Regions from separate parts of the Homo sapiens genome. Here all the other regions are linked to region 3. Evidence: fine-mapped expression QTL. A gene starts in region 3. Each other region holds a variant in brackets. All regions are shown on one strand. Distances are from middle to middle. Region 1 has its middle 25 kb from the start of LYZ. Region 2 has its middle 38 kb from the start of YEATS4. Region 3 holds the start of YEATS4 (YEATS domain containing 4).

Evidence for each region. PIP is the estimated chance that this variant, and not a neighbour inherited with it, causes the effect.
Region 1: its variant is the best candidate, but not a certain one, in a credible set for the expression of YEATS4 in subcutaneous fat (GTEx, PIP 0.67).
Region 2: its variant is the best candidate, but not a certain one, in a credible set for the expression of YEATS4 in whole blood (INTERVAL, PIP 0.57).

Annotation. Positions count from the first base shown.
Region 1 is chr12:69,321,474-69,325,719 of GRCh38, reverse strand. No RefSeq gene overlaps it. Among named protein-coding and RNA genes, the nearest start is that of LYZ, 25 kb to the left of the region's middle. The variant C/T (reference allele first, on the strand shown) is at 2,656.
Region 2 is chr12:69,395,846-69,400,091 of GRCh38, reverse strand. It overlaps a transcript of YEATS4 not described here. Among named protein-coding and RNA genes, the nearest start is that of YEATS4, 38 kb to the right of the region's middle. The variant T/C (reference allele first, on the strand shown) is at 1,847.
Region 3 is chr12:69,357,675-69,361,906 of GRCh38, reverse strand. It overlaps YEATS4 (YEATS domain containing 4), which reads right to left and starts at 2,164. Exons shown (of 7, transcript NM_006530.4): 1 at 1,884-2,164. The coding sequence starts at 1,934. RefSeq lists a silencer at 1,630-1,789 and enhancers at 1,215-1,816, 2,070-2,259, 1,817-2,420.

The DNA of each region.
Region 1 (4,246 bases), 36 kb after region 3:
ATAGTTTTCAATTTTGATGAAGTCCAATTTATTGATTTGTTTTTATGGGTTGTGCTTTTGGTGCTGTATCTAAGAAATTTTTGCCCAACCCAAGGTCCAAAGATTTTCTACTATGTTTGTTTTAAGAAGTTTTATAGATTTATGTTTCACATTTAGGTTTATGATCCATTTTGGGTTAATTTTTATGTATGGTGAAATGGTGCAATGTATAGACCCAAGTTTTTTTTTTTGCATATGGATATATACACACACATATATATGCATACATGCAAACACACAATTTACATTTAGTAAACAAGAGATAAAACTGTAATCTCAAAAAAAAATTTCTTTCTTGGTGGTGATTTCCATTAAAGACCATCTCCAGATCCACTTCCTCTTCTGTGTCAGGCTATTGGCATGGAACTAAGTCTATCTGATGTGTAGTTGAGCTGTGTTTGACTGTGTTGTGGTTTTAGTTAGTTTCTGTTCACCACTGACTTCAAGTGTTATGGAGTAGAATGAGGGCTTCTCTTCAGCAGAGCCTGGGATCTGAGAATTAACAACATCCTAGAGATCCATCTGTGCTTCCCAGCCATGTCACCTGGGGGAATCTCTTCCTGCTTCACAGCCAAGCTGTCAGGTTATGGGTTACTGGGAGTTTTCTTTGTTTTTCAGTCTAGTCTCCTGTTTGTGTGTGTAGAGGTCTCTTGAAGCCTTGCTGCTCACCCTCTGGCCTTTGGAGGACAGCTTCTCTGCTCTCCATGAAGGTCCAGAATGTTTCAGAGGAGTTTCTTAGCTTTCCTACTAAGTCTTTAGGCTTTGGTAGTTGAATGCCTGCATTGCTTGTGAGGATTCCTGACCTATCTCAACTTTCACAGTTGGACATTAGAGTACGTCTGATGGATTTCTCTCCACTCGTCTTCCCTGTTCCCTTGCCTCCAGAAAGAGCTATGAACTTGCAGAAGACTCCACACACCCCAACAGGGGATCTCTCTTAACTTTTCTTCTCTCCTTCTAACTTTTTACCTACTACTGTTGTATAATGACCCACGGGAAAAAGTGAATGAGTGGATGCAGACTTGCTCTGTGGCTGGGTATCTTTGGGATTTAATCTGTTTCACTAGCCCATTATTATATATTGGTGAAAAACTAGCTAATTTCTCATTATTCCCATCCATGGTTTTTTTTTTTCCCCTAACCTGTTCTTGCTCCAGTGATGAGAGCAGCTGTGGGTCTTATCTTTCCTAGATAAGGGCTACTTTCTGGAGTTTGTGTTTCTTTTCTTTCTAGATTCCTTTGTGTCTTTAGTCCCTTCTTTATTTTCTTTCTCTCTTTCTTTCTTATAGAGGTAAGAGTCTCGCTATCTTGCTCAGGCTGGTCTGGAACTCCAGGCCTCAGCTGCCCTAGTAGCCACCATACCTGGACCTTCAGTTCTCTGAAGCATTTAAAAAAATTATGTCTGGCTTGTTTTGATTTTTAGCATGAGATTGACACCCTTTTGTGATTTTCTATAATAGAATCAGAAGCAGAACTGAGATTTGGTCTTAATAATTTGAGAATTGTACCTTTACAAATAAAACTGTTTATGGTTATATGAGTAACTAACGTTCAGAGAGAAGTGATTGGCCAAGGTATAGAAATGAGGTAGGGGCTATCTTAGTCAACTCAGGGCTGTCATATCAAAATACCACAGACTGGGTGGCTTAAACAACAGAAATTAATTTTCTCACAGTTTTAGAGGCTGGAAGTCTGAGATCGGAACTAGCATCATTAGGTTCTTGTAAGGGCTCTCTTCCTGGCTTTGCAGACTGCCACCTTCTCCCTGTATCTTCCTATGGTGAAGAAAGAGTTCTGAATCTCTTCTTCTTCTTATAAGGGTACCAGTTCTATTAAATCAGAGCTCCACTCTTATGACCTCATTTAACCTTAATCACCTACTTAAAGACTCCATCTCGAATATATTCACATAGGGGGTTAAGACTTTGACGTATGAATTTGGGGGTGTAGTGAAGGGGGACAAAATTCAGTCCATAGCAAGGTCCTAGATGAATTATAATCCAACACTTTTGATTTCTAGTCCCTCCAGGGTGAGGACTTACAGGGCAAATGGGGGGTCAAGGGACTCAGTGTCGTGTTGTAATTTAAAAAGCATAGGCTGTAAAGTCCAAAAAACTTGAGCTTAAATTTTGGCTCTGCACTAAAACTGTAGGAGCTTGTGAAGGGTCTTCAATGAGCCTCAGTTTCCTAGAAGATGTGAGAGTTTGATGGGATTACATATGTAAAGTGCCTATGTGTCTTGATTGTACTTGTAGGATTTTCACTTTTGGAGATGACTGAGCGATTGCAGAGAGAGGCTAATGTCATTGAAAGAAGATTTCATTGTAATTCAGTTATCTAGAGAAGGGTACATGCCATTCCACTCAGGACCACATGTGGAAGCACCTGGGTCAGTTAGAAGGCATAGGAGCAGGAGGAAAGCATGGCTCAAAGACTTTATTGTGATTTCCATGAGAAGGAAGGAGCAAGACAGTAAATAGTTTAAAATTTGCTAGTTTGAATAATTTCCACAGACTCTGGACTATAGGGATGGGCTCTAGTTGTTAGGTACCTGGCCCAGGGGTGATTTAGGATAGGACAAATATTGGCTTGGTGTGTGATAGTTAGATATAGCCA[C/T]GACCCCCAAAGGTTTGGGGGTGTGGCTTTGGATTTGTTGTGTTGCAAATGAAAGGTGTTTTCCCAGGCAAGTTATTTACTGTGTCTAGGAATTAACTAGCCCTGGAAGGAGCAGTCCCTCCCCTGCCAGTAGGGCTCCTAAGATGTCAAACCAGACATCTTACAGAAACACAGAAAGTCATTATTAATACATTGTCTCAGTTCCTGGCATATTACTACATGCTTCATGAGTGGTGGTCTTTTCCATAATCACTCCTGTCTTTCTCTCATCTCAGCAGCTTCTGGAAGATTTTTTCTCAGTAGTTCTGTCTGGATAACCCAGGCCTTGGTTTTTCCCTGTCATAACTACATCTTGATGGACCATGCCTGGGTAAGGCTGAGAGCCCCATTAAGAGGGAGCCCTTCCAGATTCTGTTAGGGCAGGGGCAGGACTAGAAAATAAGAGTCATCTGGAAGGGGCCAGCTTTGTTGGGGGGGGATTGATATCTCTATTTTCAGGCTAAAAGAGAGGGATTCTCAGTCTGAAGCCCTATGGGTGGTTGATTTGGGGTCACCACGCATCAGCATCCTGGCAACAGAGAAGAAAACTAGAAAATCTATTCCATCTGACTGGGCTGCCCATATTTAGCTACATGCTTCAGCAGCAACTGTGTCCAGGCTGGTGAAAGGGCAGTATTGGCCTCTCCTCAAGGAAGACTGAGGTCAGGCCAGGCGTGGTGGGTCAGGCCAGGCGTGGTGGCTCATGCCTGTAATCCCAGCACTTTGGGAGGCCTAGGTGGGCAGATCACAAGCTCAGGAGTTCGAGACCAGCCTGACCAATATGGTAAAACCCCGTCTCTACTAAAAATACAAAAATTAGCCAGGTGTGGTGGTGGGCACCTGTAGTCCTAGCTACTTGGGAGGCTGAGGCAGGAGAATCGCTTGAACCCAGGAGGCGGAAGTTGCAGTGAGCCAAGATCACGCCATTGCACTCCAGCCTGGGTGACAGAGTGAGACTCTGTCTAAAAAAAAAAAAAAAGACTGAGGTTAGCAACAGTTGCAGTAGTTATAATGAACAGTTCATTTTTCTGAGTTGTCTGGGCTGTCCAGCTTCAGTATGCAGTAAGAGTAAACAAGATTGATACTCTGGACTGAGTAAGCACCACTGGAATCTTTGAACATCAAATAAAAAGGTACTGGTAGAAGAAAAAACATAATTTTCTGTTAACATGGCCAAATGAGGCCTTAATTAATTAAGCACCTCTGAATGGCAAAGCGGGACACAAAGACAGGGCACCATTCAGAATACAGAATTATGAAACCCATGGAAACTGCATAAATATCTTTTCTTTCCAAAGTCATCCTACCATAAAGAGATTATCCATGGCTGAATTCACACCATCAGAGTCCACAGTTCCTGCAAGTGATATGAACTTGGGTCCAGATGCCTCACGGATATTTGCCCAAGCAACCTCTCCAAAATAAAGGTTAAGAAGCTGCACTAATCTCTATGATTCTGGCCAGTTATTCATACACTATGAAACTCAACTTCCTCTTACAGAAGATAAGGATATTAATATCTACTTTGTGGCTTTGTTGAAATCACACCATG
Region 2 (4,246 bases), 38 kb before region 3:
AGTTGTTTTTAGTATATTCACAAGGTTGTGTAACGATCACCACTATTTAATTCAAGAACTTTTCCATCACCGCCACGTAAAAAAATTCTGCACCCAGTCACTCCCCATCCTCCCTTCCCCACCCATCTCCTGGCAACCACTAATCACTTTCTGTCTCTATGGATTTACCTATTCTGGATGTTTCATATAAGTGGAGTCATACAGTAGGTGGCCTTTGTGTCTGGCATCTTTCATTTGGCATGTTTATAAGATTCATTCTGCATGTTTAGCACATCATTCATTTTTACTGCTGAGTAATAATCCATTGTATTGATACACCACATTCGATTTATTCATTCATCAGTTGATGGACATGGGGATTGTTTCCAATTTTAGCTATTCTGAATGATGCTCCTATAAATATTCATGCACAAGTTTTTGTGTGGACATGTTTTCAATTCTCCTGGGTATATATCTAGAAGAATTTTGAGGTCATATGGTAACTCTATGTTTAACATTTTAAGGAACTCTGAAACTTTTTCTACAGCAGTTGCATCTTTTTACATTTTTACCAGAAATATATGAGAGTTTCAATTTCTCCACATCCTCATCAACACTTACTATTGTCTGTCTCTTTTATTGCAGCCATTCTAGTGGATGTGAAGTGTTATCATCATTTTGATTTGTATTTCCAAATGATGTTAAGCATCTTTTTATATGCTTATTGGCCATTTGAATATCTTCTTTGGAGAAATGTGTATTCAAATTTTTTGCCCAATTTTTAATTGTCTTTTTATTGTTGAGTTGTAAGAGTTCTTTATATATTCTGGATACTCGACTCTTGTCAGATATATGAGTTGCAAATATTTTCTCCCATTTCGTGGGTTTGTTTTTTTTTTCTGACTTTTTTTAGAATGTCCTTTGAAGCACAGAAGTTTTTTTGTTTGTTTGTTTGTTTTTTTGGGGGGGACGGAGTCTCACTCTGTTGCCCAGGCTGGAGTGCAGTGGTGTGATCTTGGCTCACTGCAACCTCCGCCTCCCGGGTTCACGCCATTCTCCTGCCTCAGCATCCTGAGTACCTGGGACTACAGGCACCCGCCACCATGCCCAGCTAATTTTTTGTATTAGTAGAAGCAGTGTTTCACCATGTTAGCCAGGATGGTCTCAATCTCCTGACCTCATGATCCACCTGCCTCAGCCTCTTAAAGTGCTGGGATTACAGGCGTGAGCCACCACACCCGGCCAAAGCACAAAAGTTTTTAATGATGAAGATCAATTTGCCGTTTTTTTTTTTTTTTGAGACAGGGTCTTGTTCTGTTGCCCAGGCTGGAGTGCAGTAGCATGATCCTGACTCACTGCAACCTCCATCTCCTGGGCTCAAGCGATCCTCCCACCTCAGCCTCCCAAGTAGCTGGGACTACAGGTGCACACCACCATGCCCAGTTAATTTTTATATTTTTTTAGTAGAGACAGGATTTTGCCATGTTGCCCAGGCTGGTCTTGAACTCCTGGGCTCAAGCAATCCACCCACCCTGTCTCCCAAAGTGCTGGGATTACAGGTGTGAGCCACTGCATCCAGTCAATTTGTCTATTTTTTATTTGGTTGAGTGCACTTTAGGTGTTATATTCCCAAGTATTTTATTTTTTTAGATGTTATTATAAATGAAATTTTTTTAAAATTTTTATTTTCAGATTGTTCATTGCTGGAGTATGGAACTAATTGATTTTTGTATATAATCGTTCATCCTGCAATTTTGCTGCATCCATTTATTACCTCTAATAGTTTTTTTGTGTGTGTGTGTGTATTCCTTAGGGTTTTCTTTACACAAGATTATGTCATCTCCAAATAGAGATCATTTTACTTCTT[T/C]CTTTCTAATCTGGATGACTTTTATTCTTTTTGCTTGCCAAATTGCTCTGGCTAGAACCTCCCACACAGTGTTGAATAGATGTGGAAAGAGTGAACAGCCTTATCTTTTTCCTAATCTTATGGGGAAAGAATCCAGTCTTTTACCACTATGTATGATGCTTCCCACTGAGGAAGTTCTCTTATATTACTAATTCGTTGAGTGTTTTTTTAATTATAAACGGGTATTGGATTCTGTCAAATGATTTGTCTGCATTTATTGAGATGATCATGTGTATTTTGTGTCCTTTGTTCTATTAATATAGTCTATATGTTAGTTATTAAGGCTGCCATAACAAACTACCACATACAGGTATTTGGTATTTATTTTCCCACAATTCTGGAGGTTATAAGTCTGAGATCAAGTTGTGGGCAGGATTAGTTTCTCCTGAGGCCTCTCTCCTTGGCTTGTAGATGGGTGTCTTCTCCCTGTGTCTTCATATGGTCTTCCTTCTGTGAGTGTCTGTGTCTTAGTCTCCTCTTACAAGGACACCAGTTGTATTAGTCCATTTTCATGCTGCTAATAAAGACATACCAAAATTGGGTAATTTATAAATAAAAAGAGGTTTAATGGACTCACAGTTCCACATGGCTGGGGAGGCCTCACATCATGGTGGAAGGTGAAAGATGAGCAAAGGCATGTCTTACATGGTGGCAGGCAAGAGAGCGTGTGCAGGGGAACTACCCTTTATAAAACCATCAGATCTCATGAGACTTATTCACTATCTTGAGAACAGCACAGGAAAAACCAGCCCCCATGATTCAACTACCTCCACTGGGTCCCTCTCATAACAAGTGGGGATTATGGGAGCTACAATTCAAAATGAGATTTGGGTGGGGACACAGCCAAACTATATCACGAGTCATATTAGATTAGGGCCCAACCTAATGATTATAATTACTTCTTTGACACTATCTTCAAAAACAGTCACAGTCTGAGGTACTAGGGGTTAGGGCTCAATATGTGAATTGGAAGAGGGACACAATTCAGCTCATAATAGTGTATTACACTTATGGATTTGTATATGCCGAACCAACCTTGCATTCCTGAGATAAATCCCAGTTGATAATGGGACTTATTATCCTTTTTATGTTGCTGGATTTGGTTTGCTAGTATTTTGTCAAGGATTTTAGCAGATGGCCAGCATTATTATCTTCTTTATTCTTACCATTCAACACGCTTTTACATGTGCTATGTCATTTACCCTTTAACAGAATTCCATGAGGTAGGTAGTATGTTTACCACAGCAAACTGAGGCTCAGGAAAGTTTATTTTCCCCTAACTATAAACTCGCAGTAGTATATAGTATAAATTGGAATTAAAATTACAGATGGTGAGAACATTTAGGGAGATGAAAGAAAGCAGGATTTGGTGAGAACAAAGAGAAACTTTGTATGGATGGAAGTTTACAGAATCAATTTGAATAGCATCAGTGATCTCAATGATGTAAGAACTGAGGTCATCTGCTGATGTGCAAAATAAGAGTAAATAGGTTCATGGTTTCAATTCATGAATGTAATTAAACCAAATAGGAGTGACAATTCTCATTAATTTTGAGAACATGACTTAACCAGATTAACTCATGTTCTCATTAATTTTGAGAACATGAGTTAACCAGATTTAACTCATTAATCATGAGAACATGATTTAACCAGAATGAGCCAAAATTTTAATAATAGGGATTGGACTATAACAGTAACAGTAAACCTCAGCTTACAGATTTCTTCTTTCTTGGAAAGTTTGTTTCCCAGTTGATTTCCAGTTTGCACACTCTCCTCTAAGCTTTGGGGGAGCTGTACCATGACTGTTCAGTCAGGAAATGCTGAATTAAAATTGAATCTCTGTCCCAACAGATTGTGTGACTCTGAAAGTCATTTAATTTCTTCATGGCTCTACTCCCTTATCAAATGAGGGAATTAAGTTAGATGATTAGCTCCCAGCTTTATGACTCTATTCATTTAGTGAATAAGCAGACTGGTGATTCAGTAGACTGGAAATTTTCAGACAGCAACAATAAAGAATTTACTAAGGGTAGACTAAGGAATTACTAAAGAGCAATGAAGCCGTGTTGAGGGTAGAGAACAGTTAACTCAGGATAGCCAGTGAAAGTGAGAAAGAGTAAACAGATTAGGGTGGAGATCCAGGAGGGCTACCTAGAGTTGGGGATTGACATGAGGCGTATTACATAAGGTTACTGAAATCTAGGTGGTCAATTGGTTAAAATTTATCTTAAGTAAAAATAACTAAAAATAATTTAAAAGCCAGATCAGAGAGTCCAGGCTGGGGCAGGAGATAGATGAAACTCATACCTTTAACTGCCTATTTTTACATTAGGACCATAATGTTATTTATCCGAGTTCACC
Region 3 (4,232 bases):
GACATGGCAAAAATGGCCAAGAGTCACTTGGATGACTGAAGCTTGGTAAATAGTGGCTGATGACATGTTTGCTACATTTGTCCTTAGTTTAACATACATATTTCTTATATCTGATAAGTGCAAAGGCAGTGCGTATTGACAGATTATGTTGGAAAGATAAAAAATTTCAATTGAAGTGAAAATATTGAATGTTGCACATGAATCTGAAACCAATGGCTCAGTTACAGAAATGTATCTGAAGAACAATGAGCAAGATTTACCACATGTGAAAAGTGCTGAGTGAATGTAACCAACAACAATAAAAATGAAGAAAAGCGGCCAGGCACGGTGGCTCACGCCTGTAATCCCAGCACTTTGGGAGGCCGAGGCGGGCAGATCACCCGAGGTCGGGAGTTCGAGACCAGCCTGACCAACACGGAGAAGCCCCCGTCTCTACTAAAAATACAAAATTAGCTGGGCATGGTGGCGCATGCCTGTAATTCCAGCTATTCAGGAGGCTGAGGCAGGAGAATCGCTTGGAGGCAGGAGAATCGCTTGAATCCAGGAGGTGGAGGTTGCGGAGAGCCGAGATTGCGCTAGTGCACTCCAGCCTGGGCAACAAGAGCAAAACTCCGTCTCAAAAAAAAACAAAACAAAACACACACACACACACACACACACACACATAAGTATTTTAAAACCTACTAATTATTGCTATTTTTTTTTTAAAGAAACATTGTCTTGCTCTGTCGCCCAGGCTAGAGTGCAGTGGCACGATCTCAGCTCACTGCAACTTCCGCCTCTCGGGTTCAAGCGATTTTCCTGCCTCAGCCCCTCTAGTAGCTGGGATTACAGGTGCCCGCCACCACGCCCGGCTAATTTTTGTATATTTAGTAGAGACGGGGTTTCACCATGTTGACCAGCCTGGTCTTGAACTTCTGATCTCAGGTGATCCACCCTCCTCGGCCTTCCAAAGTGCTGGGATTACAGGCGTGAGCCACCTTGCCCGGCCCTGCACGTTAATTTTTAAGGCAGGACCCACTGGCTCCTGATAAAAACAACTATTTGTACCCCTTCTGATTTTTATTTATAAAGGAAAGGAAATTTTTCTTTAAAAAGAATGAACCACGGCTGGGCGCGGTGGCTCACGCCTGTAATCCCAGCACTTTGGGAGGCCGAGGTTGCAGTGAGCCGAGATCGTGCCATTGCGCTCCAGCCTGGGCAACAAGACAGACACTTCGTCTCAAAAAAAAAAAAAAATTAACGTGCCAGGGGCTGTGTGAGGGAAATAAATATTACAATGTCAAACATTACGCTAGGGTCTATGGTAATTTCATCAAAAACAAAAGAAGTTGACATTTACTGAATGTTCCCCATGTGCCAGGCACAGTGTTATGCTCTTGCTTTGAGGCTTTGTGAACACCATGAACTCCAGCAAATTTTCTTAGCTTTCGTATGCCTCGGTGTCTCAGTTACCGCACTTGGAAATACTGCGGGTAAGCGCTCAGCGACTGTTTGCTACAGTTATTGTTATCCTCACACCAGGAGGGTGGCGTCACCGCTTCACCAATAACCTAGATTGGCAGCGAATGTGCACCAAGCTGAGCTTTCCCAGCCCTCGGAGTCGCCCGTTTCCTTGGCAGCCACGTCCGGGTTTCCCCAAGCCACCATTTATCTGTTTGTTTTTTGGCGGGGGTGGGAGTTGGCAGTGACGCGAGGAAGTTGGGGCCCAATGAACGCCGGTTTTTCGCTCAATGGCTCTGACTCGCTCTCCAACCTGAAACCACGGTTCAAACCCGAGGAGAAAAGGCGCGAAAGGAAACCCAGTGGGCCCTCCCCGCGCCGCGCAGGGAGGAACCGAGGCGGGAGAGCCACCCCGGAAGAGGGGCGGTCCGGGCACTGACCTTTACTCTCCCGCCGGAGTCAGGCCCAAATTCGGCCATTCTCTTGAACATATTGTCCCACGGAAGAAGCCGCCGCCGCCAGGGAAAGAGACCGGGGCTGGCGGGGTCGCCGCTCCCCTCAGAGACCGCGCTCCTGTCGCGCGGGCCCAGGCGGAGGGTTTCTAGCCGAAGGAGGGCGAGTTACTTGGGCTCACGGCGGTGAGTAACCGTCAACTCCTCAGGCCGACTGTGCTCCTGAAGGCCATTCAGGCCCGCGCAGGTGGAGAACGCCGCGAAAAGAGGGGCGACGGCCGCACCGCGCGCAGGCGCAACGGGCTCGCGTATGCGCACGCAGTGTACACTGCGCACGCGCCTGGCGGCTGCAGTCACATCACAGGACCAGTGCAGGAGTTCCAAACCAAAAAAAAAATGAAAGGCAGGAAATAATAAATGACTTCAAAAAGTTGTCCAGATGTTAAGGAGATGAGTTTCCACACTGAAAGATCCTACTAAGCACCCAGCACAAATATTAAAGCATCCACGTCAAGGCATATCATTGTGAATTTTCTGAACATCGAGGAAAAAGAGATCCCACACCCTTCCAGGTTATACAGACTATAGAATCAGAGTGGCTTCAGATTGCTCAGTTAGAATCTAGGAAGCCATACGGCACTGTCTTCAAAACTCTGAGGGAAAATTACTTCCGATTTAGTCTTCAATACTCATCCAACTACCAATCTAGTGTGTGAATAGAATAGAGTTTCAGATGTGCTAAATCACTACACACAAAAAATAGTACCTATCTTACCTTTCTCAGTACCTCCAGGAAGATCCTGTAGATCTGATCCACCAAAATGAGGGAATAAGCCAAGAAGGAGGAAATTATGAAATGCAGGAAATACAATAAATAACAAACACAGAAAATAGTAAGATCCCAAGATGATACTGAAAGAGCTCCGGGAACAATAGCTGTGTATAGGCATAGACGGCAACGCATCTAGATTAGATTCGGTCAGAAATCTTTGGGAGACACTGCTTCAGAAGGATGGGATTGACAAAATTCCAGCTGGCGTTGAATCAAGAGGAGATTTGACCGAGAGTTTGGAGTTTAACTCATGACAGGTACACAGAAAACTAAGCGGCTGTAAGAATTATGCAGCTATTAATTCTAGGGAAAACAAAATCTTGTGCAAGAAAGGAAAGTAATTGTATTTATTGTTACATAAATACTGAGTATTGGCCGGGCGCGGTGGCTCACGCCTGTAATCCCAGCACTTTGGGAGGCCAAGGTGGGCGGATCACGAGGTCAGGAGATCGAGACCATCCTGGCTAACACGGTGAAAACCCGTCTCTACTAAAAATACAAAAAAATTAGCCGAGCGTGGTGGTGGGCGCCTGTAGTCCCAGCTGCTTGGGAGGCTGAGGCAGAAGAATGGCGTGAACCCGGGAGGCGGAGCTTGCCTTGAGCCGAGATCGCACCACTGCACTCCAGCCTGGGTGACAGAGCAAGACTCCGTCTCAAAAAAAAAAAAAAAACAAAACAAAAAAAAACTGAGTATTGATCCCCCCTCCCCCTCAAAAAAAGAATTACATTTAGAAGGATGGGCTTTGGAGAAGGGTACTATGCTTGATGGGGATGGAGGAGGAGGAAATAGAGCTTAATCTTTAACTTCCATAGTAGGAAGTCAGTATCTTAAAATGGAAAAATCAAGAAGAAGCAATATAGGTGTAATATTGAAAAGCATGGAGATAAATATTTTAAAAAATAAGCTAAAAGAGTAGAAAATACTGCTGATTGTAATTTTTAGTAATTCCACTTAACAACTGTAAAGAAAATACTTTTTAAAAGACTTCACTAAATAGAAGTGCAAGGGATGTGCTCAGGGCTTAGTTATATTAGTGCCACATGAAGAGCTCAATTGTCATATGGATGTCACTGCATTTCAACCAAGATAGGAACTGAGTTTCTTTGAAAATGATCAAACATTGATATTGATTTTTATTCTGTTGCCAGAATAAGAGTAGAAATTTGGTTTGGGGGCGTAATTATATTTAAAACAATTGGTATGACTAAGAAATATTTATCAAAAACTAAAGCAAAATCTCCAACAAACATTGCTTTCCCTCTTCAGTCTACTTTGTCTAATCTCTGGCAGTTTCCTCAATCAGCCTGTGTTGTTGGGTTATCCTGGCACTTCTTGGACATGTCCTATCTCTGTTTCTCAGCTGTCACTCTTCAACTCTCTCTCCGCTACCTTGACTCATCCTTTGTACACCTCAGGGTATCTCGATATGCATAAACTCATTCGTTTTTAGTTTAATCACGTCAGAATGGTCCAAGAATTTTGAAGCCAAAGGTTGCACCTATGT